Linked DNA regions of Homo sapiens. The protein of the gene in region 6 purifies or fractionates together with the protein of the main gene of each other region. This does not show direct contact. Each region holds a gene or a part of one and is shown on either strand. Other genes may lie near its edges.

Region 1 (2,781 bases), on a different chromosome or scaffold from region 6:
CTCAATGCAGGAGATCGCTCAGATCCAGACTCACGCCAGTGAGACCTCTGTCATCCTGTCCATGGACAACAACCGGGACCTGGACCTTGACAGCATCATCGCTGAGGTCCGCATGCATTATGAGGAGATCGCCCTGAAGAGCAAGGCCGAGGCCGAGGCCCTGTACCAGACCAAGGTGGTCACCGAATGGGTCTCCTCCCACAGCAGCCCTTCGCTTCCTGGGAGGGGTCACCTGCACAGTGAATGTGAGGAATACTTTTGTGGGCATGCTGAATGAAAGAAAGGTTCCAACCAAGGCTTCAAGGAAAAAAGGAATTCTTAGCAGAGCTTGTTATCAAAGATAAATCATGAAACTGGTATGGATTGAATATATGCAACAGAGAGGATCCCTCACTTCTTTCCTCCATCCACGAACTGCCTGTTCCTCTCTGTTGCAGGTGAAAGAAGTGAGGTGGTAAAACAAACACACTTATAGGAATGGGGGCATGTTGCCACAGGGCAGAGGGAGAATCACAGACTTGCGGGAGTGTAGCCATGGGTGAATTTGGTGGGGGGCGAGTGAGAGAAGGAGAAGCCTGTAGCTCTTTCCTGATCCCCACGGGAAGACTTTCAAAAGGAAATGGAAGGCGAGGAGTGCTCTGAGTAATGGAACTATGCTTTGGGTAAACTGAGTAATGGAACTATGTTTGGGGCTGTCAGGGAGAAAACCCCTTACCTGGGCCCCCAGGACCCTGTCCCAGCACTCCTCTTCAGTTCCGTTAAATCCCACCGACAGCCAGGGTGGCAGGGGTGGCTTATTTACAGGACCCTTCCCCAGTGCCCTTGTCTCATCACCAACTTCCTATCTCTGGGAAACCAGATCCAGGAGCTGCAGCTGGCAGCCAGTCGGCATGGTGACGACCTGAAACACACCAGGAGCGAGATGGTGGAGCTGAACCGGCTCATCCAGAGGATCCGGTGTGAGATCGGGAATGTGAAGAAGCAGGTGGGCAGCAGCCCCACAAAGAACTCCCGGTCTCCACAGCAGGCTCTGGGATGAGGAAATGGGGCCTGCCCTTTGGGAACAAGCAAATATCCCCTGCTGGGCTTAGGGGTCCCTCGGCCACCCACAGTCTCCCTTTCCCACCCTGCCTCGGTACCCTACCATCAGAGCTGGTACCCCGCCCAGAACTGGGAGGAGCCTCAAACCTATTTCTCTGACTCCTCATTTTGCAGATAAAGCAACTGGGCTGGGAAGGGGAAGGGACTTTCCCAGAGCCCCCAGCTGGTAATGAATGGAGCTAGGATTAGAACCCAGGTTCCCCTTCTGCAGATTTTTTCTGTGTCCAATGAACCTGCCCCATGTCCCCTTTGGGTGCCCCCTCTGAGGGCAGACCCTCTGTCTCCTCCTCCCACTGGACATGGAACATGTGTGGGGTGCAGAGGGTATGCATCAGGCGCCTCTGTTGGCCACACCAGGTTCCTGCTCTCGGAGTGGGGCATGGTCTGTTGACTGAGGGACACAGCTGTCGATGAAGCCCTCCTGGGTTCCCTTGCCCTGTGCCATGGTACTACTTCCATGTTAGTGGGCGGGGGGGTGGGGGTGGGGGGCCTGTCTTACCTGACAGCAGCAAATTTTAAACACTGCGTCAGTGGGGAGATGATATTGGAGGCTGGAGGATCCTTCCTGTGACCTCTCTGAGAACCAGGTCTGCTCTGCTAGTGATAGAATTGACCAGCGGAAAGATCTGAGCCTGTTCTCCTTCTGGTGCCCCCACAACCCTCCATGCTCTGCAGGCAAACACAGGGACAACTCTACGACTCTACATTTGGCCGATTCACAAATTCCATGAGCATAGTTCCTCCCTCTCTGTTAGCAACAGGCATCGCAATGCCCCCCAGATGTTCATCAGAGTCCAGCTTCTGAGGTTGTGCCTATAATTTAGGGCCTTATCCTCCTGCTCTAAGGGAAGGCCAGATGTGGGAGCCTTCACACAGACTCTCCCCAGAGTGCTGGAGTCCAGAAACACTCATCTGGATGCTAACAGATCAGAAGGATCCCCAATGGGGAGAGGTCCTGCAGCAGGAATCTGATCACAGTGGGACCGTGGCATACTGTCTCATCCTCAGGGCTGGCCTTGCTAGGGGATCGGGCATGATTTTCCTGAACCTGTAGTATTTTGAATCTGTAGATACTGGTGGCCTCCGGTCTCAGGCACTATCTAACTTTGCAAACATCGACATTTCTTCCTGACCTCCTGAAATGCAACTGCTTCCACAGCTTCATGTGATAACAGCTTTGAATACTCCTCTGCAATAGAAAATAGAAGAGACAAAGTTCTGGTGTTGGCTTTGCAGCTTTTACTCCTTGTCACCTAGGGCCCCATCTGCAAAATGAGGGCATTGTTCTACTTAACTGGTATGAGCTAAATGTAATTTTCTGTTCTGATGGTCTCTCTGTTCTTTGCCCTTCAGCGTGCCAGCCTGGAGACGGCCATCGCTGACGCTGAGCAGCGGGGAGACAATGCCCTGAAGGATGCCCAGGCCAAGCTGGATGAGCTGGAGGGCGCCCTGCACCAGGCCAAGGAGGAGCTGGCGCGGATGCTGCGCGAGTACCAGGAGCTCATGAGCCTGAAACTGGCCCTGGACATGGAGATTGCCACCTACCGCAAGCTGCTGGAGGGCGAGGAGTGCAGGTAGGTGGGGTGGAGGGGAAAGTGTGAGAAGGGACTGGGGTGTGGCTCCTGTCTGGCTGAGGGGCCACCTGGAGAACAACATGGTTAGTGCCAATACAAGCAAGAG
Region 2 (3,500 bases), on a different chromosome or scaffold from region 6:
AAGTATTTGATTCTGTAAGTATCTTATAGAAAAAAAAAAATGATCAAATGAAAGTGGTATTTTAAATCTGAATGCAGAGAACAGGAGGGGCTCAAAGAGAAATCTAAAAGCAAGCAGAACTAACAAAGCATTCCAAGATAAATGTATGGACCAAAAGACCACTGGAAAAAAAAAAAAAAGAAAAAACTTTACAGAACAAGAAGTTCATTACAACTATGAAGAGATAAAAGTACTACTAAAGTTTGACACTAGGTACCTGGGAGAAACTACTACCACTTAAAACACACGTGTGCACACACACACAGAGACAAATCAAAAACCTAGTCCTAAAATAAAACGTTACATAAAGAAGGTTAAAAGATAAAAGACAAGCTCACGAAAAATACTTGCTAATGCCGCAAAAAAAAAAAAAAACAAGTTAGTAGCTATAACACACAAGTAGGTCTTGCAAGTTAATTTAAAAAAAAAAAAATCAAGAAATTAGAACATCTGGCCAGGTGCAGTGGTTCACACCTGTAATCCCCGCACTTTGAAAGGCCAAGGCAGGCAGACTGCTTGAGCTCAAGAGTTCGAGACCAGCCTTGGCAACACGGTGAAACGCTGTCTCTACCAAAAATAAAAAATTTAACTGGGCATGCTGGCATGCATCTGCGATCCCAGCTACTCGGGAGGCTGAGGTGAGAGATCACTTGAGCTGGGAGGTGGAGGTTGCAGTGAGCAGATGGTGCCACTGCACTCCAGCCTGGGTGACAGAGTGAGACCCGGTCTCAATTAAAAAAAAAAAAGAAAGAAAAAGGCCAGGCACGGTGGCTCACGCCTGTAATCCCAGCACTCTGGGAGGCTGAAGCGGGTGGATCACCTGAGGCCAGGAGTTCGAGACCAGTCTGACCAACATGGAAAAACCTCGTCTCTACTAAAAATACAAAATTAGCTGGGCATGGTGGCGCATGCCTGTAATCCCAGCTACTCGGAAGGCTGAAGAAGGAGAATCGCTTGAACCCGGGAGGCAGAGGTTGCGGTGAGCCGAGATCGCACCATTCCAGCCTGGGCAACAAGAGCAAAAAAAAAAAAAGAAAGAAATTAAAATATCCAGTAAACAGATGAAAATATATTAAACCTTATTAAATATCAAAGAAATGCAAATGAATGAAACGATAATGGTGCCAGGCACCAATAGGGGCTCACAACTATAATCCCAGCACTTTGGAAGGCCAAGGTGGGCAGATCATTTGAGGTCAGGAGTTCAAGATCAGCCTGGCCAACATGGCAAAACCCCATCTCTACTAAAAATACAAAACAACAAAAAAAACCAATAATGGAATATGTGACAACTCCAAGTGTTGGTGAGACTCAGGAAATGGGTAATTCCACACTGTTGGGAAATGTAAATTTGTAAAAGCCTTCTGAAAGGCATTTTGAAAGTGTATCAATGTTACAAATGTATATACCACCTTTGCCTCAAAAATTTTATCCCCAGGAAATTCAATCTAAAGATAATGGAACAAATACACAAAAAAAAATTTGCTTTAGATATACACACATAGCAAAAATTAAAAAAAAAACAAAACTAAGAATTTATCAAAGTGGATTCAGCCAAACAATTTATGCTATATCCATACAACAGAATACTAGGAGCTACTAATAAAAATGGTATGCTGTACTGTGGAGTACAGGCTACAAGACAGCATTGTTACATGTTCCCGCTTATGGAAAAATCATACATCCCTGTGCATATATGCATAAAAAAGTCTAGAAAAATATTTATCAAAATGTCATGAGTGATCATCTCATCAGGTAGCTGGACCTAAGGGGCCTTTTAATCTCTTATACTTTTCTATACTAACGGAAAATTTCTACCATTAGCCTCTATTATGCTTGCAAACAGGTGAAAAATAATAAAGAGCAGTAACAGAAAAAAAATGACTCTAAGAAAGGTGAAATAATTTAATGTTAGGTAAATTGAGTTTGGAATGCCAATAAAATATCCCAGTGAAAGTGCCCCTATGCAACTGAAAATGCAAACAGAAAAGCAGGGAGGCGTGTAGATCATTTACCATTTTCGGTTCCTCTCACTAACCTCATTTCCATTTTACTTACATTCCAGTTTTACCTATATTTATCCTCTAATGTACATCAATTTTACTTTCCAAATACATAAAAAACACTAGGTTCTTCCACAATTTAAATGTGCAGGAATTCAAGGAACAAAATCACTGCAAACAAGTAATGCTTCTGATTTTAGCTTGGTACTTTTGCTTCCAACACCCACTTCAAAGCTTATAAATTTATAGAAAACAAAGCCAACCAAAACCAAAATAACAACAACAAAATGATATTCACACAAAAAAAGTCCAAAATAAAGGAAAAAATTAAAATTATCTTATATGTGAATATTAAGCAACATTCACTTCCAACTGGTTTTTCAAAAATAGCTACAATTTTTCAGAGTTGGGAAATAAGTTTGACATAATGTCTGCTCAGAAAATTTTCTCTTTAAAGATTAATTCAAACGCACCAAGAATTTATCTTGATCAGCACAACAGAGGGCAAATATAAACACTAGGTCTGAATTTATTCCATTCACACTAAAGTGACTCCCAGCATCCTCTACTCATTCTAATAAAGTAGAAGCTAGAAGGAGGTTCTTAAATTCCCTCCTTATAAATCGAAACAATTACCTGCCCTATCCTAGAGTATGAGAGTGTATGTAAACCAAAATACCAAGCAAGTTTACAGATATAACTCGCATCTGTGCAGACTGGTTTGCACTAATCTGTAGAGAAAAAATGTATTTAAATTAAACCACCAATAAATAAGCTCTGTAATTTGTCCTCTAGGAGCTTACAATCTAGTAGGGAAAACACAAAGGCAGCCAGCCAACTAAGCAGATATTAAACAGAATTTTTTAAAACTCTACAACAAAGATAAAGTGCTGTGGGGGCACAGGAAAAAAAACTAACTTTTATCTAGATGAATGGAAAAAGGTCTCAAGATAGTGGGATTTAAGGCTGGACACACTGGCTCATGCCTGTAATCCCAACACTTTGGGAGGCAAGGACAGGAGGATTGTTCAACCCCAGGAGACCAGCCTGAGCAACACAGTAAAACACCATCTCTACCAAAACACACACACACACACACACACACACACACACACACACACACGACAGTGGGATTTTTGAGCTGAGTTTTAAATGCAAAGCTGGAGATGAAGAGCAAAAGAGAGTTTGGAGTGTCTCTTATCATTTAAGCTAACAGAACAGCAAGTATAAAAATAGAAATAAAAATGTCTTTGAAAACAGAACTGTGATAGAATGGAGCCAGATCATAAAAGGCATTAACTGATGGAACATTAGGAAGTTTAGACTTGGCCATGCACAGCTGCTCTTGCCTGTAATCCCAACACTTTGGGAGGCCCAGGCGGGAGGATTGTCTGAGGCCAGGAGTTCAAGACAAGTCAGAGCAACATGGTAAAACCCATCACTACAAAAAACACAAAA
Region 3 (3,500 bases), on a different chromosome or scaffold from region 6:
CATTTTTTTATTTTTAGTAGAGACAGAGTTTCACCATATTGGCCAGGATGGTCTCAATCTCCTGACCTCATGATCCACGCGCCTCGGCCTCCCAAAGTGCTAGGATTACAGGCGTGAGCCACCGCGCCTGGCCAACGGAATCACTTTCTAAAGGCAGCCCAGCCATGTCAGAGGGAATTCTCCACAAGATAATCAGAGATGTCAACCCCACCCAAAGCATCTGTAATGAACCTGATTTTTTTTGTTGTTTTTTGAGATGGAGTCTCGCTCTGTCGTTCAGGCTGGAGTGCAGTGGTGCCATCTCAGCTCACTGCAACCTCCCTCTCCCGGATTCAAGCAACTCTCCTGCCTCAGCCTCCCCAGTCGCTAGGATTATAGGTATGCACCACCACGCCCAGCTAATTTTTGTATTTTTAGTAGAGACGGGGTTTCACCATGTTGGTCAGGCTGGTCTCGAACTCCTGACCTCATGATCCACCCGCCTCGGCCTCCCAAAGTGCTGGGATTACAGGTGTGAGCCACCGCACCCGGCTGAACCTGATGTATTTAACAAACAAAAATGTGTTCCATCTTACCAGTGATTAGGGAAATACAAATGTAAACAAGTTAGCCCTTTTTGCCTATCAGCTCAGCAAGAATGAAGACAGCTACTAAGATCCAGCACTGACCAGGGTTGACAAGGGGCACTTTCCACCCTTCAGTGGGACTGGATTAAATGACTCCAGCTTCTTTGAAAAGCAGGTTGGCAGTACCTATGAAAATTCTCAGTGCATACACCCTGTAAGCCAGTAACCCCACTTCTACAGAAACACGTGCACAAGAATAAGTATCAGCTGGGCGCAGTGGCTCACGCCTGTAATCCCAGCACTTTGGAAGGCCAAGGTGGGTGGATCACCTGAGGTCAGACGTTCGAGACCAGCCTGACCAACATGGTGAAACCCCATCTCTATTAAAAATATAAAAATTAGTCGGGCGTGGTGGCAGGTGCCTATAGTCCCAACTACTTGGGAGGTTGAGACAGGAGAATTGCTTGAACCCAGGAGGCAGAGGTTGCAGTGAGCCGAAATCGCGCCACTGCACTCCAGCCTGGGTGACAGAGCAAGACTCCATCTCAAAAAAAAAAAAAAAAAAAAAAAAAGAATAAATATCGCCTATATCCCAAGTAGCTAAGCATCGCTGAAAACACAACCAGAAGTCAGGCACGATGTAACAGCAGCGTCAGTGCACCATGTGGTGCCTTCAAGCACAGAAAGCCCACCGCACTCAGATGAACCACAAAGGCCTGCATGTGGAGCGCAGAAAGAAATCAGAAAGACACACGCTGACCACAGGCTGCCAGGGAGGCATAGGGGGCAGGAGCAGGGACTGTGTCCCGGGTGGCACCATAGACGCTGTTATGGGAACCTTCCTGTTTGGACCATGGGTGGGAAAATGATGGGCCAGCCAAAGGGTTTTCGTGAGCAGGTGCATTAGACAGACCACAGAGGCTTCTGACAGAAGCGCCACAAGGTCCTAAGCCCCACTCCATCTTCTTCCCTCCTCTGGCAACCAGAATGAGACAGTTCCCAACATCAGGCAGAGGCAACTCTGTTTGGTGCCAGGGAGGGGATGTCAACAAACAAACAAAAACGACACCCCAGCAGCACTGCAGGGGAGGACTCACCTGAGAAAGTGTTGTCTGCAAAACGCAACAGTAAACTGCTCTTGCCCACACCTGCAAGAGAGAAAGCACTGCGATGAGGGGGGCAGGTGGGTCCCCTCCCCGCAGCCCCAGCCCTTCTTCCGGGAGAGGATGCCTCAGTCCCAACTCTTAAGAAGCTCGGTGGGACCCAGCTCACTTCTCAATGCTCTTTCCACCTCCCTGAGCGGCCACACACCAAGAACATCTCTTCCACTCGATCCCTGACCTTTTCCTTCGTCCTTGTGTAAGACAAGCTGCTCCCAAATCCCCTGGGGGAGAGATGAGAAAGGGACTGGTGCCCAGGCCCTAGGCTGAGGGCTGGCCCAAAGGGAGATGCCAGACGACAAAGCAGAATGAAGGTCAACCACACGAAACGGCCCCCAAGTGCGTCTACAACATGGTCCCTAGAAAAGTGCACAGCACGTTGTAGCACATCAGTTAGGGAGCCGCCCAAAATGAAGAGCTGTAGAGCGGGAAAGGACCCTTGAGATCATCAGGGCTATTTTGCAGGTGAGGAAACCAAGGCCCACATAGCTAGAACTCAATGGCTACCATCTTTCTGGCTGATGTCCCCGCCGGGTGGGCTGGTGGAGTGGAGGGTCTGCCTTATACCCATCAGGGCAGCAGCCCACATGTGCTCAGACCATGCACCAGCCACAGCAGCTCCTGGCTGCTTAGAGCACAAACATGTACACATCTGGCCTCCCCCACTTTTTTTGTAAAGAAATGGGGTTTCAGGCCAGGCGCGGTGGCTCATGCCTGTAATCCCAGCACTTTGGGAGGCCGAGGCAGGCGGATCACCTGAGGTCGGGAGTTCAAGACCAGCCTGACCAATATGGAGAAACCCCGTCTCTACTAAAAATACAAAATTAGCTGGGCGTGGTGGCACATGCCTGTAATCCCAGCTACTCGGGAGACTGAGGCAGGAGAAGCACTTGAACCCGGGAGGCGGAGGTTGCAGTGAGCTGAGATCATGCCACTGCACTCCAGCCTGGGCAACAAGAGCGAAACTCTGTCTCAAAAAAAAAAAAATGGGGTTTCATTCAGTCACTCAGGCTGGAGTACAATGGTGCAATCATGTCTCACCACAGCCTCCAACTCCTAGGCTCAAGTGATCCTCTGACCTCAGCCTCCCGAGTAGCTGGGACCACATGTGCATACCATCATGCCCAGCTAATTTTTTTATTTTTAGTAGGGACAGAGTCTGGCTACGTTGCCCAGGCTTTTTTTTTTTTTTTTTTTAATCTTTTGTAGAGACGAGGTCTTGCTATGTTGCCCAAGTTGGTCTCAAACTTCTGGCCTCAAGCAACCCTCCCGCCTGGGCCTCCCAAAGCGCTGGGATTACAGGCATGAGCCACTGCGCCTGGACCTCTCCCCTTGACTTCAACTCACAGTGCTTTCAGCCTGCCAAGTACACCTGTTCCATGTCCTCCTATCCTGTCCCCAATCTCCAACACCCCTGAGGCCAGCCAAGTTAATTGACCACAAAGAATTCACATGCATCGGGCTGTGTGTGTGGTGAGCCCTTGGATGCCTCTTTGATTATAATTCTGGCCACATCTCTTGAGATGAGGAACCTCAGGCCCAGAGTGGCCGGCCTAAGTGCCTCTGTGAGCAGCAGTAAAGCTGAGATCTGCATCCAGGCCGGACTCCTCCAGAGTGCTAACACTCCTCCCAATACACATTGCTGGGAGTCTTGCGTCTGGTTCAGGAAGTTTGGAAAAAATGACCTGTGGGGGCTCCAACATCTCACTCCTGTTAGATTTTTAATGAAAATGCCACGAAAGCTATGAAACCCCCTGAAACAAAGTGCAGATTT
Region 4 (3,629 bases), on a different chromosome or scaffold from region 6:
GTCAGGAAAATGTTCCAGCACACCTGCAGACTGTCAACAGTCTGCTTATATTAATTATTCTATTTTAAATATAATATCTAAAGTTATTTCCAGCCATGTGATGAGGTAGGCTAGTGACTCCGAATATTATGCAGACTTGCTTTTCTTACAATTGCCTTAATGTCATCTGACTTCCTCACCCTTTGTCTTACTCTACTCCTGCCTCAGCCTCCCAGGTAGCTGGGATTATAGGCCCCCGCCACCACGCCTGGCTAATTTTTGTATTTTTAGTAGAGACAGGGTTTCACCATATTGGCCAGGCTGGTCTCGAACTCCTGACCTTAGGTGATCTGCCCACATTGGCCTCCCAAAGTGCTGGGATTACAGGCGTGAGCCATCGTGCCCAGCCAATCCCCCAACTGTAAAACATCATCTCAATGCTAGCTACATTTTGAGGACTGACACAGCAGAAGCAAGTTCTTGTGGGGGGCAAGCGGGGAAGTAAACGATTAAGAGGACTCTTTTTTTTTTTTTATTCCATTTTTACACATCCACCTGTTTGCCATGAAGTCACAACATTTTATCAAAATATACACACAGCACAAATACCTTTAAAATGTATGGTTGGAATTCTAATTCAACTCAATTGACTGCTGCAAACAGCATGCATGGGCCATTGATCTTGAATGATGCCTACGGAGGGGCTTATGAGTCATGAAATCACCAGTCATGGCACGAGAAGGGGTTAAGGTTCTTTTCCCAGGAGACTTATGCACTTCATTTCTTTTCTTGTTATAGTGTGAGAATGGCAGTGAGTGACTGTGCCAATACTGGAGTCTGCTGAGAATGGGTGGATGGAAAGGTTTTTACTGGCAAGGGTGAAATGATACTATCTTTTCTATCTTGACAAGATAACAAGCGAAGGTGTCTAGCAAACCTTCCCTCTCACTTTCCACTTGTCCTCTTGACCATGGATTTCATGCCCAATCAGGATGAATGGATTTGTAGATCTCAAGTTACAAGCTATGTTTATTGTAAAGAATTCCCATAAAAACCTATCCAGGGCTGGCCCCCCAGCCATTTACACATCCACAGATAGGAATAGAATAAAACGGGTTAGTGATTACTTGTCTGCGGCTGAGTGAGATCCGCTACTAGACCAGGCAATGGGGCCGTTTCAGTCTTGAGACGTCTGTACTCCGTTTGCCCCTGATTCAACAAGCATTTCATTGATCAGCAGTTGGCGCCCAGGTGAAGAGCCATAATTTATTGCAGTATCAAGTCTTGAAACCTTTCCAAGTGCGGAGACCCATCTTTCAAGTAAATAACTATGGTTAGTAATGACCTAACTTCAGGAGCGTCTGTGAGACATGTCAGGAGACGAGACACACGGCATCGTCATTAGTGAAGTAGACTTGGTTTCTGCTACAGATAAAAGTCACATGGGGGCGAACGGGTCTCAGTCTTTATTGTTGAGTGTTTCTTTCTTTTTCCAAGTTGAAAAAGGAACCCAAGCAGTGTCTCTTGAACCAGTTCCCAGGGAGAAGGCAAATTCTTTCCTGTCTCTGGAGGGGCAAGATTCAGGATATCAGCCGCTCCATCCCGGGGTTCATGAAGGAAAAGTTCCTGAACATATTCTGGTCCATGCTGTTGATCAGTGCTCTGTCGGCAAATGACAGCCGGGGCTTCTCGTTTAAGAATTCTTTGTCGAAATTGCTGCAGTCAAATGGTGATTTCTTAGTCAGAGTTTAAGGGAAGAAAGAAAGAGAAGAAAAATCAGCCATTAAGTTCATGATCTTCACTTTTGTTATCTAGGCCGTGATCTGCGTATGGCAAAGTTGGTGTTTGCAGAGACACTAAATGGAGGCAATGCCTACAGATGACCATGCCCAGCTCTCATTGAACATGGCTGTGATCCTGTGTCCTCAGCTTAATAATAATATAAATTCATAAATTCACAGAAAGACTACGACTGTAGACATTCAAATGGGATCTAATGTTTCTAATGGTTTACATGAAGCAGGGTTGGCAACCTTTGAAAAAGTGATCCACCTGAATTTGACCTCTGCCTCTTCAGTTTTCATGGAACACAAGGTGGGGATAAGGGAGGGTGGTGGGGAGAGGGAGTGAGGGGGTGTGAGCGGAGGGATGGGAAGAGAGAAGGAATTTCACAATTACATATTCCTGTTCTTTTATCAACGTTCTTGGCTGTTGTCAGTCCCCTGCCCTTGTTAATTTTATTAGTAAGTATCTTGGGCTTTTTTAGACAGCACAGACTGGGACAGACTCCTTTCAGACCACTTGGTCCATTGGTTTTCATGGCAAAAAAACCAAAACCAAACCAAACAACAGAGAAAGGGAAAGCAAACATCTATTTCATACATGCTGTTCAGTATGGTGTTCAATTCAGTGTCCCAAGATTGAGAACAACCATTATCAACAGAAAGTGCTATGAACACAGAGAAGCGAAATGAAGAACCAGGCCCCTCCCACCCTCCAAGGGGCCCTGGGGCTGTGAGGTCAATGGCAGCTCAGACCACAGGTCAGGGAAAGTTTCCTACTGGCAGAACTGGGAATGTCCTTTAGGGTAAGCTTAGATCAAAGTTTTGATTTTTATGTGCAAAATATTAAGTCAATTTTAATCTGCAGTGGAAGGTGAGACATGGTTTAATAGTTCTGATAGCTAAAAACAAGGTAAAATTTTTATTTTATCACAAATGACTAACCCACGTATTAGATGTGGTTCTGTCACAAGTAATTAGAGTGCTTGAGGCTGGCCTGTTGGGTCCTTGGAACATCACTGGAGCTTGGGACAGATGTTGAGAACAACTATTCTTGCCCTGGGAATGAGATGCACCTGCTTCTTCTGGCCATTCGCTATCATGACTAATAGCCTGTGCGTTCTCTGGGGTGGAATCTGTTGGGAAGTCCATGAGCCTGGCCCCCTTCAGCACGGATATGGCCCATGTCTATCCAGGCAATCACAGGGAATGGTTAAGGCTGGCAAACCCACAACTTTGCTCTACTCTTTTAAAAATCATTATTTTTAGAAATTGTGATATACATAACTTAAAATTTACTTTCTTAATGACTTTTTTTTGTTGTTTTTCTAAAAAGTTTTATTTTTGGAGACAGTCTCTCGCTCTGTCACCAGGCTGGAGTGCAGTGGTGTGAACCCAGCTCACTGCATCCTCTTGGGCTCAAGTAATCCTCCTGTCTTGGCCTACTGAGGAGTTTGAACTACAGGCATGCACCACCAAGCCCACTTAATTTTGTAGAGATGGGGTTTCACTATGTTGCCTAGGCTAGTCTCAAACTTCTGGGCTCAGGCAATCCTCCCACCTCAGCCTCCCGAGTAGCCAGGATTATAGGCGCCCGCAACCATGCCCAGCTAATTTTTGTATTTTTAGTAGAGACAAGGTTTCACCATGTTGGCCAGGCTGACCTCGAACTCCTGACCTCAGGTGATCCACCCGCCTCGGCTTTCCAAAGTGCTGGGATTACAGGCGTGAGCCACCATGCCCAGCCCAACCTTGCTTTATTTTTGACTTCACTTTATGGTGGCCCGTCTCGCAGGTGAGCCAGGTCATTCTGCCTTTGCTGATGTAGCTTAATGACTTTTGCCAGTGAGGACATAAATGGAAATGTAC
Region 5 (3,500 bases), on a different chromosome or scaffold from region 6:
GTGTGTACATGTGTATCGTGTGTGTGTATGTGTGTGTGCACATGTGTGCATAGTTTTAGGGAAAAGTTCTGTAGCTCTCGCTGCAATTTCTTAGGGGACCATAATCCTAAAAAGCTTAAGAGTCCTAGTTGAATAGAGAAAGTATATTTTCTTGATTCGAAGCCAGGTTTCTGCATTATGATCGCACACTGGCTGGATCAGGATGGGAAAGAAGGCCCCTGATGGGGCTGAGAATTTAAAGCCCCTTGTCTGCCCATGGCCCGGCCTCACCCATGTACTCACGGTCTTGGACTCAGACTGTAGGGTGGACTGGAGACCATGAGCTGGCTGAGAGCTGACACGAGAATCAGGATGAGGATAGGCATCAGCTGCACAAACACCCCTAGCCCGCCCTGGAGGGAAGAGCCAATGTCACTCTGCTGGACCTGGGTGGGGTGTGGTGTCAGCCATAATCACCACTAGCTCCCCTAGAATAGTGGAGCCTGGGGAGACATGACACCACTCTGCCGTTCCCTCCACGAGGCTCCAAAACACAGACGCTCCTTCACCTGCCAGCTTTCCCAGATAAAAACAAAGCAGCAACTGGTGTGAAATACAGGAGGAAGTGAGGTGTCTGCATTTACTTTTGACAGAATGCCAAAAAAAAAAAAAAATCAGCAAAAGTTGCTTCCTCCAGGAGAATGGAAGGCAGGGCTGGAAGGAGACATGCAGTATATACAAGTTTTTGAGATGTGAACCACACAAATATATTACCAATTTAAACATTATGGCCAGTGTGGCGGCTCATGCCTGTAATCCCAACACTTTGGGAGACCAACATGAGAGGAACACGTGAGGCCAGGAGTTCAAGACCAGTCTGGCCAACATACACCCCCATCTCTACAAAAAATAATAATTAAAACAAAATAAAAATTAGAAATAGCACTGGTTCTAGGGTGCAGAAAAAGCAAACAAACAAAAAAAGAAGAATTAGAAATAAAAATTAACAAATATATTCACTGTGTGATAATCTGTGATGTTAAACTCTTCTGTTGTTAGATACAAAATAAAAAAATTTTGATCAGGGGCAATGGCTCATGCCTGTAATCCCAGCACTGTGGGAGGCTGAGGCAGGAGGACCACTTGAGCCCAAGAGTTTGAGACCAGCCTGTGCTCAAACAGCAAAGTAAGACCCTATCTCTACAAAAAATACAAAAAATTAGCTGGGTGTGGTGGTGTGGGCCTGTGGTCCCAGCTACTGGGGAGCCTGAGGTGGGAGCTTTGCCTGGGAGGGGAGGCTCCTGCACTCTAGCCAGGGTGACAGAACGAGACCCTGTCTCAAAAAAAAAAAAAAAAGGCCGGCATGGTGGCTCACGCCTGTAATCCCAGCACTTTGGGAGGAAGGGGCAGGCAGATCACGAGGTCAGGAGTTCGAGACCAGCCTGGCCAACATGGTGAAACCCCGTCTCTACTAAAAATACAAAAATTAGCTGGGTGTGGTGGCGGGCGCCTGTACTCCCAGCTACGTAGGAGCCTGAGACAGGAGAATCACTTGAACCTGGGAGGCAGAGGTTGCAGTGAGCCAAGATTGTGCCACTGCACTCCGGCATGGGCAACAGAGCGAGACTCCATCTCAAAAAATTAAAAAAAAAAAAAATTGAATAAATATTGTCAGAGCAAAAGGAAACCCCTTCCGCCTGGCCAGAATTTAAAATGTTTTGCAATTGTCCACAATATTTTAATTTTAGCCAGCTAGCTGTTCTTTGATCTGTGGCATACAAAATGTGTTTGAAGCACTGTCTAGTTATAATTTTTATACTTTTTTTTTTTTTTGAGACGGAGTCTTGCTCTGTTGCCTAGGATGGAGTGCAGTGGCACGATCTCGGCTCAACACAACCTCTGCCTCCTGGGTTCAAGTGATTCTCATGCCTCAGCTTCCCGAGTAGGGATTAAAGGCGCCTGCCACTACGCCCAGCTAATTTTTGTATGTTTAGTAGAGACGGGGTTTCACCATGTTGGCCAGACTGCTCTCAAACTCCTGACCTCAGGTGATCTACCCACCTTGGCCTCCCAAATTTTTGTAAATATCTTTTTAAAAGTATCTTTTGGCTTTTTAGCAAGAAGAGTCGGCACCTATGTTGTCATCCTTTAAAATTCTCTCAGTGGCAGAGCGCAGTGGCTCACGCCCATAATCCCAGCACTTTGGGAGGCTGAGGCGGGTGAATCACCAGAGGTCAGGAGTTCAAGGCCAGCCTGGCCAACATGGTGAAACCCCATCTCTACTAAAAATACAAAATTAGCCGGGGGTGGTGGCACGCACCCGTAATCCCAGTTACTCGGGAGGCTGAGGCAGGAGAATGGCTTGAACCCGGGAGGCGGAGGTTGCAGTGAGCCGAGATCGCGCCACTGCACTCAGCCTGGGCGAGAGAGCAAGACTCCATCTCAATTAAAAAAAAAGAAATTTCTCTCACAAAGTTGAGAGAAAATAGCTGAGACCCATGAAAAAAATGAAAAATAAAATAAAATTCTCTCACAAAGTGTAACTTTCCATTGCTTAGAGGATGTCACTTTGGCCTTACCAGCGAGCGGTCTGCATGGGAGCCTCACACTCAAACCTGGCTGTGGGTGGGGTTTCTGGTTCCACTCCCCAGCCAGGCCAGCAAAGCCGCGCTCCCGCCGGCAATGTGGAGCATGGCTCCCTCGTGTGGCGCCCTCTGGTGTCACTCAGCAGAATGGCAAGGGAGGCCCAGAGGGCTCCTTGGCTGAGAGTTATGGGGACTCTGCTGGTCCCAGAATGGACAGTGTGGGAGGGAACACCCTCCTCCAAGCCCCCTCCCTGGGGTGGATTTGGTGCCCTTCCCGCGCTGTCCCTGGCGCCCTCCTCACTCACATCACCCTGGTTGTCCCTGCGGTCCTGCCTTTGCTGGTAGGTATAGCGCATGCGGCCGTTGCTGTAGACGTGGACGTTACCTGGGGGTCAGAGGGGCTGAGTCAGGAGCCAGGTCTGTTGGGAAAGGGAGAGGCTGGCATGCCATTCCCACCATCACCCCAGGGATACCTGGCTGTGGGGAGGGTGGGGAACTTACTAGAAGGGAAGCCGCCGCCAAAGAACATGTTGAAGAGGTCTTCAGGGGAGATGTCGGCCTCAAAGCCACGGTGGAAATCCCCATGCCCATGGCCGTGCCGGGCCGCCTGGCTCTTGTCATCGCCGAACTGGTCATACTGCTTCCTCTTCTCCGGGTTGCTGAGTACCGCATATGCTGTGCCAATGGCTGGAGAGGAGGAGGAAAGGTCAGGCCTGAGGATCCTGGGGTGCGGGGGGAGGCTCCCATGGCAGCCGAGTGCTCACTTTTCTCAGGTACTCAAGCAGTGCTTTAGGAAGCAGACGTCCTTGGGGTGGGCAGGAAGCTTGGCCAGTGTAAGGAGGGGGCATGCAGGAAGACCCCTCAGTGGATCTGGGCAGCCTGGCTGGGTGGAGGGTAACACAGGCTCCTTGTTCTCCTCAAGACAATGGTCAAGCT
Region 6 (2,657 bases):
GGTAGTTCATTCCATGACTGAAACGAATAGAAGGTTTTGGCCTAAAATGTATTGACGCTTATGCCCACAAATGGATATGTTTCCATGCTTCCATGTATCACTGCTGCTTAAAATTTTTGCTTTTAAATGATCAAAATTTAATTAGTGGAAATTTTTTAAATAAGTAGTTTAAATCTTGAGTTTTAAATCCAGTAGGAAACCTCACACTCAGTTTTTCACTTCTAGTAGGAGGATTTTCTTAAGGCATGAGGTATATTTAATAGGATGTTTGAATCTCTGGATCTGTATTGGTGCTTTATCCTACTCAAAGCACTTGGAATGTATGCATTTCATTGAGATGAGTATATACACACTTCTGCTATACTACTGGAACTACTCACGACATTTTTTACAATTGGTGATGAATCAGCACAATTAAAAGCATCTAACCGTCACCTAAAGTGACATTTCAGTTGTCTATGATTTTTTCTTTTTCAAGTAAAGAATGTCTTTCCCCATGCTTAGTCATTACAAATAACTCCTTTATTTCCGTTCCCTCTCCCCTCAAATGGCTCATGTCCACATCAACAAGGCAAGGAAACATCTATGACCCCAACTATGAAACATAGAAGCAGCTAATTCTGACTACATTGAAGCAGAGCACACACAATTTGAAAGAAGCATAAGGAAGTATACAACAAACATGCATAAAAACCTTATGCAACCACATCTGGGCCTTGTATTTATCACTCATTTTTATGATATTTTCTTCTTTCGAAAGAATAGGATGAACCCATGCTCAAAACCTTTCTAAAGCATTTTCAAAATACAGCTTTTTTGGTGGTACTTCAAAATAGGTTGGCACAAAACAAAACGTGACATTTGGTCTCTGGTTTGTGAAGGAGCCATTGCCTCTCTCTCCTCCACGGTCTTAGGGATCCCAAGGAAGAGAAGTGAGTGTGCGACCGAGCTCAGGGCCCAGGCTGGTTCATGCTATTCTTGCTTTTCAGAATGGTATCCTCGTAATGACCAGCTCCAGGGGCAGTAGCGGCTTCTAAGGGCAAGCCCTGTTGCTGGTAGCCGTAATTGACATTCCCACAAGGGAAGTGACGTAGCCTGAACAGAGGTACCTCCTTCATATTGGCAGTCAGCGAAGAGGGCTCTAGGAGCAGTGAGGCCCCCGGAAGTCTCCCAGTTGCAACGTTAGGTGGGACAGTACAGCTTCCCTCCAGCCCCAGGTTACCCCTGTCGTGTGGCTCCTTCTTTGCTATAGGATTATTCTTTTTGGTGGGTTTCTCTGTAAACCAGGAGCCGTACGTTGGGTTCCACAAGCTGGTGGGCTTGTTTCTGGATCCGTGGACCTTGTGCAACTCCGAAGGAGGGTTGGACTGAGAGAATGCCATATTCACGTGTCCCCCTTCCACGGCCGGCCCTCTAGGGACTCGAACAGAGATCTCTGCAGCTGTGGGTTTCTTTGCAGCCTTGCCAGAGGAGGTGGTAGGCAGAGGTGGTGGGGCAGCTGGGCTGCGCTCCTCCTCCCGTTTTGCCTGTTGAGAGACCAGGAGAGGAGGAACCCCCTCAGGGTCCTTGGGCCTCACAGGCACTTTCTCTTCCTCTTCCACAAGTGGACCATATTCTATCGGCAAAGCGGTGTTGATTACATCCGGGTCCTGCCGTAGGGGAAATTATTAAAACTTTGAATCAGAGACAAAAAATGTTGGATCTAGAAGATACCTTAGAGATGATGTTATCTAAACATATTCTACAGATGAGGAAACCAGGATTTATTGAGAATATAGTAACTTACAGGCACTGGGGCATACAAAATGAATGGGAAGTCATCCTTATCCTCAAAGACCTTAGAGGATAAGCGCTATAATGGAAGTGTGTATGGGTGCCTGGGACAGAGTGGAGCAGGAAAAGCTTTGCAGAGGAGGAGACCTTTGGCCAGTTTTTAAAGATTAGTGGATTTAAAAAAAAAATTAAGATTATTATTTGTATTATTCCAGTCTAGTTCCACTAAAATCGTTCCAACTGGAAAAAATAAAAATAAAAGCCTATGTGTTTGACTTCAAGAGTGATGGTGGGGGGCTGGGGGGAGGAGGAGAGGAGACACATGCCATGTTGGCCTACAGGGTTTATTTTTTGATCTCTTCCCAGCTGCTTTCCATTTCCATTTGGGTACTTTACACTTGATTGTAAGTTTTCCTGTGCCACATCATCACATGTGCAGGTACCACAGTGCATGTTTTTGTGTTTGTTTTTTAGAGACAGTCTTGCTCAGTCGCCCAGGCTGGGGTGCCATGGCTCAATCTTGGCTCACTGCAACCTCTGCCTAGTGGGTTCAAGCCATTCTCGTGCCTCAGCCTCCTGAGTAGCTGGGATTACAGGCATGCACCCCACCCCCCCACCCCCCCACCCCCGCTAATTTTTGTGTTTTTAGTAGAGACAAGGTTTCATTCAACATGTTGGCCAGGCTGGTGTCGAACTCCTGACCTCAGGTGAGGCACCTGCCTCGGCCTCCCAGAGTGCTGGGATTACAGGCATTCTTTAACTAGTCTGGATGTGAGGGACCCTTTGCACAACCCAGGAAATGCTGAAGTGCTGTGAGGAAAACCATTTACAAAAACAACTGTGTGCTAGATCATTTTCACAGTAATAGACTGTAACATAGAAGA
Region 7 (3,500 bases), on a different chromosome or scaffold from region 6:
AGCCCAGGAGTTCCAGACCAGCCTGGGCGACATAGAAAGACTTCATCTCTACACAAAATAAAATAACATTAGCTGGGTGTGATGGTGCCTGCCTGTAATCCTAGCTACTTGGGAGGCCGAGGCAGGAGGATTGCTTGAGCTGGGGAGGTTGAGTCTTCAATGAACTGTGATTGTGCTACTGTACTCCAGCCTGGTGACCGAAATGAGTCTCTGTCTCAAAAAAGAGTATACTTGGCCAGGCGCAGTGGCTCACACCTGTAATCCCAACACTCTGGGGGGCCGAGGCAGGAGGACTGCTTGAGCCCAGAAGTTCAAGACCAGCCTGCGCAACATGGTAAAACCCTGTCTCTACAAAAAAATTAAAAAGCCAGGTGTGGTGTTGTGTGCCTGCAGTCCCCGCTACTTGGGAGACTGAGGTGGGAGACTCACCCAAAGCCTGGAGATTAAGGCTGCGGTGAGCCAAGATCACGCTACTGCACTCTAGCCGGGGCATCGGCAGTATCCTTATGACTTTTTGTAATCCCTTCTTTTGCTCCTTACTACCCTCTCTGTATCCCTAGGAAACCATTGTTTCCTTTCTGTTGCTTAAGATTAGTTTTTATTTTCTAGAATTTTATAAAAATGGAATTGTATATACGCTTTTTTTTTTTTTTTTTAGCACGGGGAATCTCCTTACACTCAGCATAATTTGAGATTCATCCATGTTGTTATGTGTTCATAGTTTTTTATTGTTGAATAGTATTTTATTTTATGAATATACCATGATTTTTTTTAACCCATTTACCCTTTGATGGACATTTGGATTGTTTTCACTTTTTGACTATTATGAATAAAGCTGCTATGAGCATTCATGTACAAGTTGTTGGAGAGAGATATGCTTTCTTTTCTCTTATATTAATGCCTAGGAGTGCAATAGCTAGATGTGATAGGGAAATATTTTTTCCCAGTTGTTGGCTTGTCTTCATTCTTTAAACAGTGTGCTTCAAAGAGCAGTTTCTATTCACAGACAACATGTCTGTGACTCTTCAAAAAAGCTCTAGTGAATAGGTTAATTCAGCAGAGTTGTAGCTTAGAAGGTCAATATACAACAGTAAATTGTATTTCTATATACTAATAATGAACAATTAGAAACTAAAGTGAAAAATTCCCATCTCATTAGCACTAAAAACCATGAAATACTTAAGTATTAACTTTTCAAATGGTGTGTAATATTTGTATGTTGAAAATTATGAAACACTGATTATATCATGTTCATGGATTAGAAGACTCAGTATTAAGATACCTACTCTTCTCAAACTGATTTATAGATTCAGCACATTTCTAGTCCAAATCTCAGAGGATTTCTTATAGAAATTAATGAGCCGATTCTAAAATTAATATGGAAAACCAAAGGAACTAGAAAAGCTAAAACAATTTTGAAAAAGAATAACAAAGTTGGAAGATTCATACTACCTGATTTCAACTTAGTTTAAAGCTGCAATAACCAAGACTGTGGTATTGGAGAAAAGATAGACATACAGATCAATTGAACAAAATAGAGAATTTAGTCACACAAAAATTGTCAATTCATTTTGAAAAAGTTTAAGGGCAGTTCAACAGAGGATAGTCTGGAACAGTTGAATATTCATATGCAAAGAAAAAACAATCTTTGTTTTATTTGGGCACCAAGTATCCACTGTTGGACACTGGGCAGTCCCTTGCCCAGGAATTTATGTGAATATTGGGACAAGTGACATGAATCCACCAGTGGATATGAAATAAAGTTTAATCACACAGTAAACAGCAAAAGGACTCCTCAAGGTCAAGGACTTAGGTTTAGTCCAGGATGAAGCAAGAGTGAAACAGGGTGGGTGGCTTTGGTTTTTATTGACCAGAAGGTGGAACTTGTTTGATGGTCCCCATGTGTGGTATTTACATGGTTTCAACTTCACACCAGTACCAAGGGAGGGAATACTGGTCCCCAAGTGTGGTATTTATATGGTTTCAACTTTACACCAATACCAAGGGAGGGAGTACCTGGGCTTTCTTACAGACTTACCCAGATGTGGGACAAAAGGGAGAGAGGTGTGGGACCTGAAGGCAATCTGCACTCAAACATCAAAATGAAATCTTTTTATTAGAGCCTCAATCTGTACTTGACACTGTATGCAAAAATTAGTTCAAAATGGTTCGTAGGCCGGGTCTGGTCGCACACGTTTGTAATCCCAGCATTTTGGGAGGTTGAGGCAGGAGGATTGCTTGAGCCCAGGAGTTTGAGACTAGCCTTGGCAAGAGTGAGACCCGTTTCTATTTTAAAAAATGTTCATAGATTGTGAAGTAAAATGTACAGCTATAAAATATTTGAAAGAAAACATAGGACAAAAATATTTTTGACCATGGGTCAGGCAGAGATTTCTTGGACATGATGCCAAGAACATGATTCATAAATGAACAAACTGATAAATTAGACTTCATCAAAATTAAGAAATTCTGCTCTTCCAAACACACTGTTGAGAGAATAAAAAGACTTCACAGACTGGGAGAAAATATTCCCCATCACATATCTGACAAAAAATAGACTGTATAAGGAACTCAAAGCTGGGCATGGTGGCTCACGTCTGTAATCCCAGCACTTTGGGAGGCCAAGACTGGAGGATTGCTTGAAAATCCAGGAGTTTGAGACCAGCTTGGGCAACATAGCAAGACCCCATCTCTATTAAAAAAAGTAAACAACCTAATTAAAAAGAGCAAAAGATTTGAGTAGACACTATGCAGGAAGGTGTATGAACAGCAGATAAACACCCCAAAAGGTGTTAAACATAGGCCAGGCATGGTGGGTCATGCCTGTAATCCCAGCACTTTGGGAAGCTGAGGTGGGTGGACCATCTGAGGTCAGGAGTTCAAGACTAGCCCGGCCAACATAGCGAAACCGTCTCTACTAAAAATACAAAATTGGTCAGGTGTGGTGGCACGTGCCTGTAATCCCAGCTACCTAGGAGGCTGAGACACGAGAATCACTTGAACCCAGGAGGTGGAGGTTGCAGTGAGACAAGATTGTGCCACTGCATTCCAGCCTGGGCGACAGAGTGAGACTCTGTCTCAAAAAAAAAAAAAAAAAATAAAGGCATTAAACATCATTAGTAATTATGGAATTGCAAATTAAACCCATAATGAGATAGTACTATATGTCTATTGTGAAAATTAAGATATTAAGAGAAACTAAGGAAAAAACGGCAATACAAAATGCTGGTAAGAATGGGAGCAATGGAAACTTTCATCCTTTGCTGTTGGAAGGGCAAATAGTGTAGCTACTTTGGAGAAACGTTTGGCAGTTTTTTATGAAGGTAAATATATACTTGTCATATGACCCAACATTCCCGCTCCTAGGTATTTACCCAAGTGAAATGAGAACTTAGGTTGATTTCCTCTTTTTTTTTTTTTTTTTTTTTTTTTTGAGATGCACTCTCACTCTTTTACCCAGGCTGGAGTGCAGTGACACAATCTCGGCTCACTGCAACCTC

The links.
Region 1: the proteins of ALK (region 6) and KRT74 purify together in Homo sapiens (affinity purification with mass spectrometry, with the first as the bait; one study listed by BioGRID). This does not show direct contact.
Region 2: the proteins of ALK (region 6) and CDK13 purify together in Homo sapiens (affinity purification with mass spectrometry, with the first as the bait; one study listed by BioGRID). This does not show direct contact.
Region 3: the proteins of ALK (region 6) and RAB35 purify together in Homo sapiens (affinity purification with mass spectrometry, with the first as the bait; one study listed by BioGRID). This does not show direct contact.
Region 4: the proteins of ALK (region 6) and PRKCQ purify together in Homo sapiens (affinity purification with mass spectrometry, with the first as the bait; one study listed by BioGRID). This does not show direct contact.
Region 5: the proteins of ALK (region 6) and DNAJB12 purify together in Homo sapiens (affinity purification with mass spectrometry; one large-scale study listed by BioGRID and IntAct). This does not show direct contact.
Region 7: the proteins of ALK (region 6) and P4HA1 purify together in Homo sapiens (affinity purification with mass spectrometry; one large-scale study listed by BioGRID and IntAct). This does not show direct contact.

What each region holds. Positions count from the first base shown.
Region 1 is NC_000012.12:52,568,063-52,570,843, reverse strand, and holds part of KRT74 (keratin, type II cytoskeletal 74), read left to right. Parts: intron 1-10; coding exon 11-175; intron 176-859; coding exon 860-985; intron 986-2,454; coding exon 2,455-2,675; intron 2,676-2,781. UniProt on the Homo sapiens protein: Has a role in hair formation. Specific component of keratin intermediate filaments in the inner root sheath (IRS) of the hair follicle.
Region 2 is NC_000007.14:39,956,756-39,960,255, reverse strand, and holds part of CDK13 (cyclin-dependent kinase 13), read right to left. Parts: intron 1-3,500. UniProt on the Homo sapiens protein: Cyclin-dependent kinase which displays CTD kinase activity and is required for RNA splicing.
Region 3 is NC_000012.12:120,106,754-120,110,253, forward strand, and holds part of RAB35 (ras-related protein Rab-35), read right to left. Parts: intron 1,715-3,500; coding exon 1,664-1,714; intron 1-1,663. UniProt on the Homo sapiens protein: The small GTPases Rab are key regulators of intracellular membrane trafficking, from the formation of transport vesicles to their fusion with membranes.
Region 4 is NC_000010.11:6,426,648-6,430,276, forward strand, and holds the end of PRKCQ (protein kinase C theta type), read right to left. Parts: intron 1,716-3,629; coding exon 1,560-1,715; 3' UTR 501-1,559; downstream 1-500. UniProt on the Homo sapiens protein: Calcium-independent, phospholipid- and diacylglycerol (DAG)-dependent serine/threonine-protein kinase that mediates non-redundant functions in T-cell receptor (TCR) signaling, including T-cells activation, proliferation, differentiation and survival, by mediating activation of multiple transcription factors such as NF-kappa-B, JUN, NFATC1 and NFATC2.
Region 5 is NC_000010.11:72,337,920-72,341,419, forward strand, and holds part of DNAJB12 (dnaJ homolog subfamily B member 12), read right to left. Parts: intron 3,252-3,500; coding exon 3,066-3,251; intron 2,950-3,065; coding exon 2,870-2,949; intron 393-2,869; coding exon 283-392; intron 1-282. UniProt on the Homo sapiens protein: Acts as a co-chaperone with HSPA8/Hsc70; required to promote protein folding and trafficking, prevent aggregation of client proteins, and promote unfolded proteins to endoplasmic reticulum-associated degradation (ERAD) pathway.
Region 6 is NC_000002.12:29,192,274-29,194,930, forward strand, and holds the end of ALK (ALK tyrosine kinase receptor isoform 1 precursor), read right to left. Parts: intron 1,650-2,657; coding exon 951-1,649; 3' UTR 501-950; downstream 1-500. UniProt on the Homo sapiens protein: Neuronal receptor tyrosine kinase that is essentially and transiently expressed in specific regions of the central and peripheral nervous systems and plays an important role in the genesis and differentiation of the nervous system.
Region 7 is NC_000010.11:73,086,867-73,090,366, reverse strand, and holds part of P4HA1 (prolyl 4-hydroxylase subunit alpha-1 isoform 2 precursor), read left to right. Parts: intron 1-3,500. UniProt on the Homo sapiens protein: Catalyzes the post-translational formation of 4-hydroxyproline in -Xaa-Pro-Gly- sequences in collagens and other proteins.